2 linked regions of the Homo sapiens genome follow. The protein of the gene in region 1 purifies or fractionates together with the protein of each later gene. This does not show direct contact. Each region holds a gene or a part of one and is shown on either strand. Other genes may lie near its edges.

What was found.
Region 2: the proteins of PRKRIP1 (region 1) and EIF2AK2 purify together in Homo sapiens (affinity purification with western blotting, with the first as the bait; one study listed by BioGRID). This does not show direct contact.

Annotation. Positions count from the first base shown.
Region 1 is NC_000007.14:102,402,629-102,406,445, reverse strand, and holds part of PRKRIP1 (PRKR-interacting protein 1), read right to left. Parts: intron 1,849-3,817; coding exon 1,763-1,848; intron 705-1,762; exon of another isoform or gene 1-704.
Region 2 is NC_000002.12:37,118,814-37,122,630, reverse strand, and holds part of EIF2AK2 (interferon-induced, double-stranded RNA-activated protein kinase), read left to right. Parts: coding exon 1-125; intron 126-2,491; coding exon 2,492-2,672; intron 2,673-3,817.

The sequences.
Region 1 (3,817 bases):
TTGAAGTGCCGTCTTCTCTTACTCTACGCAACAACAATGAACCATTTCTCGATCAGATTGTGACATGTGATGAAAAGTGGATTTTACATGACACCTGCGACAACCAGCTCAGTGGTTAGACCAAGAAGCCGCTCCAAAGCACTTCCCAAAGCCAAACTCGCACCAAAAAAGGTCATGGTCACTGTTTGCTGGTCAGCTGCTGGACTGATCCACTACAGCTTTCTGAATCCCGGTGAAACCAGCACACTGGAGAAGTATGTGCAGCAAATCGATGAGATGCACTGAAAACTCCAATGCCTGCAGCCAGCACTGATCAACAGAAGGGGCCCAATTCTTCCCCAGGACAATGCCCGACCACGAGTCACACAACCAATGCTTCAAAGGTTGAACAAATTGGGCTGCGATGTGTTGCCTCATCCACCATATTCACCTGACTTCTTGCCAACCGACTACCACTTCTTCAAGCACTTTGACAACTTTTTGCAGGGAAAGCACTTCCACAACCAGCGGGATGCAGAAAATGCTTTCCAAGACTTCTTCAAATCCCGGAGCATGGATTTTTACGTTATAGAAATAAACTTATTTCTCATTGGTGAAAATGTGTTGATTGTAATGGTTCCTATTCTGATCAATAAACATGGTTTGAGCCTAGTTACAATGATCTAAAATTCACGGTCCAAAACTGCAGTTACTTTTGCACCAACCAAAACTTTTGCATGACTCTGCCAGTCCGTCCTTATCAGCTGCTTTCATTAGGATTCAAGAGCAAATCCCAGGGAGCCCTGAGGCAAAGCAACCTCAGAAATAACAGGGGTGCTTTTTAAAAAAAAATTTTTTTTATTATTATTGTAGAGACAGGGTTGCACTTTGTCACCCAGGCTGGAGTGTAGTGGTGCGATCATAACTCACTGCAGCCTCAGCCCCCTGGGCTCAAGCGATCCTCCTGCCTTGGCTTCCCAAAGTGCTGAGATTACAACTGTGAGCCACCATGCCTGGTCCCTAAAGATGCTTTTTCATTTCAAGATATTTAGGGGCTGTTGTTAGAATCCTCCTCAGCTCTCATTGTAAAAGTTGAGAGACCACTTATGTAAACACACAGATACACATATAAACATACAGCCTATATACCATGTAGTCACTTGAGGGAGTCATAAACCGTAATTTAAGAAACATGCTAAATGGGAAGTTTGGTTGCAGCACCTTGTTAAAATACAGATGCGGCCGTGTGTGGTGGCTCATGCCTGTAATCCCAGCACTTTGGGAGGCCGAAGCAGGCGGATCACCTGAGGTGAGGAGTTCAAGACTAGCCTGACCAACATGGTGAAACCTCGTCTCTACTAAAAATATAAAAATTAGCTGGGTATGGTGGCAGGCACCTGTAATCCCAGCTACTCAGGAGGCTGAGGCAGGAGAATTGCTTGAACCCAGGAGGCGGAGGTTGCAGTGAGCCGAGATTGTGCCACTGCACTGCAGCCTGGGGGACACAGTGAGACTTTGTCTCAAAAAAAAAAAAAAATACAGACCTGAAGGAGACACAGAAATCAATGTGATCACTGAAGTCCTGACTTGCAAGCTCTGGACAATCTGTAACCAGTTGGAGGGTCATAAGGAACTTGCTCTCTGCTCAGGTAGTAGAAGTCATTGCTCTACATTCATGACCCCTACAGGTCATGCAGAGGAACTACTACTGACTGCAAGGACAGCTCACCCAGCCACCACCCCTGGCCCTTAAGTGTCATCACAGTTAGGCCATGCCGCTTACCGCTTCTTCCGGCGCTTTGCGGTCTGCTCCTCTGCAGCAATTTTATTCTTTTCCAGTCTTTTCTGAAACTCTGCATCCAATTTTTGCTGCAACAAAACCCACATCATTTAGACACGCTCTGGTCTGGGCAGACTGTGGGAGGTTTTGCTCAGGCAAAGTAGGAGAGTTCTAGAAGTCACACCACTGGGGGTGACGGAGGCACTACCCGGGTCCCCAGGGCCATTTTAACTTTAAAAGGCTGTCCCAGAGGCAGGGCAGGTAATCAATACATAGGTCTCCGATGGCGAAGTAACTCTTTTAGTTGACTGAGGCACCACTCATGCATAGCACAATATAGGAGACAATACAGGAGGGAGTGCAGAGGACACTCTGAGGGCAGCGCTCACCATCTGCTCAGCCGGGGCCTTGGATACTGCCCAGAGCTCATCAGAATGAATGGCCGGAGGGTCAGAACCATGGAATTTTCAAGCCCTAAGCCCAACCATAGTTACCAAATGGCTGAGTTTTTTTGTTTTTGTTTTGAGACAAGGTCTTACTCTGTCGCCTAGGCTGGAGTGCAGTGGCACAATAGCTCACTACAACCTTGAACTCCTGGGCTTGATAGATCGTCCTGTCTCAGTCTCCTGAGTACTTGGGACTATGGGTGCATGCCATTACATCTGGCTAATTTTTATGTTTATTTTGTAGAGACAGGTCTGGCTATGTTGTCCAGGCTGGTTTTAAATTCCTGGCCTGAAAGGATCCTCCCACCTCAGCCTCCCAAAGTGCTGAGATTACAGGCCACTGTGCCCAGCCACCAAATGACTGATTCTAAAGCAGCGTAACACACGCCATCTGCTGCCATGACCTGCTGCTAAGCACACACCCACACCCACACAGATATTTGTAAGTACTGCATTACTTCTTCTCAGCAGTTCTGTCTCCAAGCCTCAGTCTACTCATCTATAAAATGGGGAAAATTGTAATTCCTCTCTCCCAGAGCTGTTAGGAACAATAATGAAATAAGGGTTTGGGCACAATGGCTCATGCCTGTAATCCCAGTACTTTGGGAGGCTGATACTCAGGAGGCTGAGACAGGAGAATCACTTGAACCCAAGAGGCAGAGGTTGCAGAGACCGGAAATTGCGCCACTGCACACCAGTCTAGGCGGCAGAGGGAGACTGTCTCAAAAAAAATAGAAAACCACCTGTAAACTACAAAGACATCTACTGATTCAAAGTGTCATCTCTTGTTTCTTCCAGTCACAGCCATAAAGGTCAATGGAGCAAAAAATAAGGAGCCGGCAAAGGAGGAAGAGGTGCCTTCAACACCTCTGCTGGTCTGCACCGCCAGGGCTGTACGCATCTGCTTACAGTGGCACAGAAACCAAACCAAACAAGCCCTCTCTCTGAGGGCAGAAAATATTCCTTCAGGAAGGAAATCAACTTTAATTAATCAACTTTCTGGACAACCAAAAAGCAAATGACTTAAATCTAAAAGATCTGATTTGCTTAGAAGCTGAGCTGTGAAGTCCGGGTGCGGTGGCTCACTCCTGTAATCCCAGCACACTGGGAAGCTGAGGTGGGCAGATCACCTGAGGTCCAGAGTTCGAGACCAGTGTGGGCAACATGGTGAAACCCTGTCTCTACTAAAAACACAAAAATTAGCCAGGCCAGGTGGCAGGCACCTGTAATCCCAGGTACTCGGGAGGCTGAGACACTAGAATTGCTTGAACCCAGGAGGCAGAGGCTGCAGCAAGCCAAGATTACACTCCAGCCTGGGTGACAGAGTGAGACTCTGTCTCAGAGAAAAAAAAAAAGCTGAGCCGTGAATGTCTTACTCTGTGCTGCTGAAGAAGCCAAATTTACCAGCAAGTGAACTAAACAGAGCCCCCGCTGGCTGCCGCACCTGGCAGAGGCAATGTCTCAAGCAGGGGTGAGTGGGACTGGGCTCTGATGGAGGTGATCTGTCACTAAAAAATGAGGACGTGCTTGCCTTTTTTTTAAATCTCAGAGACTGTCTTTTGCCATCCAAAATAAGAATCTTTGCATTTGCATAGAGGCCAAGGTTTGTGAA
Region 2 (3,817 bases), on another chromosome or scaffold:
CTTGATCATGTAAATATTGTTCACTACAATGGCTGTTGGGATGGATTTGATTATGATCCTGAGACCAGTGATGATTCTCTTGAGAGCAGTGATTATGATCCTGAGAACAGCAAAAATAGTTCAAGGTAACTAAAAATAAATTCTCATAGCCATAATAGGATGGAAGGAAATTGTTATTTACTATGTATGGGCCACTGGATAAGGCTATTAATCATCACGATTAATTATCACAATTCCCTCTGAGAGACACTGTTATCTCTCCATTCCGAAGGTAAGGAGAAAGTGAAAATCTCTTCCTTGCTCCTCCTCTTGCTGCAGACTTGCTCTCACAACCCTCTGTTACATCCTCAGCTGTCTGCAAAATCTCAGGTTCAGCTTTCCTGACTCCATTGTTTCATGGAGAGCCTTGTTCACGTGCCGGCTTCAGCGCAGGCTGTTTAAGTGTAGTCTTGTGAAGAGAGTTTTAACATATAGATGCTGCATCTGGGGGCTCCCTCCTCAGCTACCAACACTTTTCTGTCCCTCTCTTAGGCTGTGATTGGTGTGGTGCCGTCAGAGGGTCTCTTTGGAATGTAACTATACCACTTATGCTGGGGTGGTGGGGAGTGAAAATATTTTTAAGACCACAAGCTGAGATGGGGGCACCCTCATGTTTTATGTCAGTTAAGCCATTGCCAAACAACTGGAGATCCTAAAGAGCTGGCATCTGTCTTTGAAAGTCACCCAACCTATTATGGGGACAGTCCTCTCACTAAAATCCTGAGGCCAATGGGGTCCCATTCATTCATTTTCTCCTGCCCCACCTCCATCTCCATGTCGTGTAAGTGAGAACATTATCATCAGTTCAGGAGTTATTGACCGTCAGCATACAGGACTTCAGCTTTCAGCAAATTCTTGGCTACCTCTTCCTGTTTTCAAGCTGACATATATACAAAGAATATAAATGAATATTGAGGCTAACTTAATTCAGAAAAAAAATAAAACGTGGTTAGCAAAAAAAAAAAAAAAAAAAATCAAGCCTCCAATTTATGTATCTTAGTAATTTGTTGGCACTTCTCTTAGAGTACCTTCCCTATTGTTTTAGGTTTGCTTTCCCTTTACTCTCTCCTATTAGACTATTATCCCCGTGACGGCAAGGATATAGTGTCTAACTGATTTTCTCATCTCTAGGTGCCTTTCATGCTTAGTAGATCAATGGTGAATTAAAAGGTTTCAAAGTTACTTTATATAATAATGAAATTTAGTTTCCTGCATTGTATTCATGTTCCTATTTCTATCTGTTAGCAATGGTGATTGCAGATCTTCAGCAATGAAGAATGGGTGGCTCATTTTTTTTTTCTTCTCGTTTTTTTTTTTTTTTTTTTTTTTGAGACGGTGTCTCGCACTGTCGCACAGGCTGGAGTGCAGTGGTGCAATCTTGGCTCACTGCAAGCTCTGCCTCCCGGATTCACAGTATTCTCCTGCCTCAGTCTCCTGAGTAGCTGGGACTACAGGCGCCCGCCACCACGCCCGGCTAATTTTTTGTATTTTTAGTAGAGACGGGATTTCACCGTGTTAGCCAGGATGGTCTTGATCTCCTGACCTCGTGATCCACCCGCCTCGGCCTCCCAAAGTGCTGGGATTACATGCGTGAGCCACCGCGCCCGGCCTCTTCTTTTTTTTTTTTTGAGACAGAGTCTTACTCTATCGCTCATGCGGGAGCACAATGGCGTGATCTCAGCTTACTGCAATCTCTGCCTTCTGGGTTCAAATGATTCTCGTGCCTCATCCTCCCGAGTAGCTGAGACTACAGGTGCCGCGCCACCACACCCAGCTAATTTTTGTGTTTTTAGTAGAGATGGGGTTTCGCCATGCTGCCCAGGCTGGTCTCAAACTCCTGAGCTCAAGCAATCCGCCAGTCTCGGCCTCCCAAGGTGCTAGGATTATAGGCGTGAGCCACCGTGCCCAGCCCAGCTCATATTTTATAAATTAGCTAAACAAATAAAGCTCTGGACATCCGGGAACTTATGATTGAAATAAAAAATGGCCTATTATATTTTGATTCAAATTTGTTTATTATATTTAGATTTCTATTTTGTGACATGTTTTGGGGTTCTTTTTTTTTCTTTTTTTTTTTTTTTTTGTGAGACGGAATCTCGCTCTGTCACCCAGGCTGGAGTGCAGTGGCGTGATCTCGGCTCACTGCAAGCTCCGCCTACCGGGTTCACGCCATTCTCTTGCCTCAGCCTCCCCGGAGTAGCTGGGACTACAGGCGCCCGCCACCACGCCTGGCTAATTTTTTGTATTTTTAGTAGAGACGGGGTTTCACCGTGGTCTCGATCTCCTGACCTCGTGATCCGCCCGCCTCGGCCTCCCAAAGTGTTTTTGGGGTTCTTAAGAAGATAAGGTATAAGCTTTTAAAAAGTTATGAAAAACTTTAAAAAGTTATAAAAAATTTTTTATAAATTTATATTTATTGTTACTTTTAACATACTGTGAATTTTATACCCAGGTCAAAGACTAAGTGCCTTTTCATCCAAATGGAATTCTGTGATAAAGGGACCTTGGAACAATGGATTGAAAAAAGAAGAGGCGAGAAACTAGACAAAGTTTTGGCTTTGGAACTCTTTGAACAAATAACAAAAGGGGTGGATTATATACATTCAAAAAAATTAATTCATAGAGATCTTAAGGTAAGTGGAAAATGTACTTTATTAATTGATATATATATAATATAGTAATTTTAAAATATATCTTCTCAGCTGGGCACAGTGGCTCACGCCTATAATCTCAACACTTTGGGAGGCTGAGGCAGGCAGATCATCTGAGGTCATGAGTTCGAAACCAGTCTGGCCAACATGGTGAAACCGTGTCTCTACTAAAAATACAAAAATTAGCTGGGCATGGTGGCGTGCGCCTGTAATCCCAGCTACTCGGGAGGCTGAGGCAGGAGATTCGCTTGAACCTGGGAGGTGGAGGTTGCAGTGAGCCAAGATTGTGCCACTGCACTCCAGCCTAGGTGAAGAGTGAGACTTGTCTCAAAAAAAAAAATTATATATATATATAAAATAAGATAGATAGATATATATTTTTTTCTCTAGTTTTAGAATAGTGGTTGATTGATAGTTATGAGAAAATGGTATCTGAACATTTCCATGCAAATAATTACTGTGACTGGCACAGCCAACTGGCTGCTCTGCCCCTGTTCCTCCTGCCTCCTCTAAGTGACTCAGCTTTATTTGAGAGGCAGAGGGGACTCTGTTGACTGTTGCTTTAGGAATATGGTTCCCTAATCTCTCAGTCATTACTCGCGAGGGCTGTCACAGCTACTGGGTCCAGAGTCTAATACTGTCTTGGTTAAGCATTTCAACCCCATGATTGGAAAATTGCGGTAATCCCGGACTGGGAAAGTGTATCATCCCTTAGTATTTTCATTTTCCTCTGGCTTTTATGGTCCGGACAAGGAGTTTCCCTATTTTTTACTTCTCATTAAAATGACAGAAGGTGAGAGACAGAATAGCCCTTCACAGCCTTTCCTCCATTCCCTATTCCCTGTGACTTGCCTAAGCCTGTCACAAGCTGGCCGTCCTGAATCCTGTCCCTGGACCTTTGCTCATGTTCTTCTCTCTCATGGGACACTCTTCTGCCTGCCCCCTTTGGTTGTAATTCCTTTACTGAGCCTTTCCTGATCACTCTGGAACTGCCTTTTTCTGTTCTAGGCAGAAGTACCTTATTTATGTGGCTATCTGCTTATCCCACCCCTCTAAAACAGCAAGGAATAAGGAATGAAACAAAAAAATTCCTTGAGAGAAATAAGTTCCCATATACACAGTTGTTT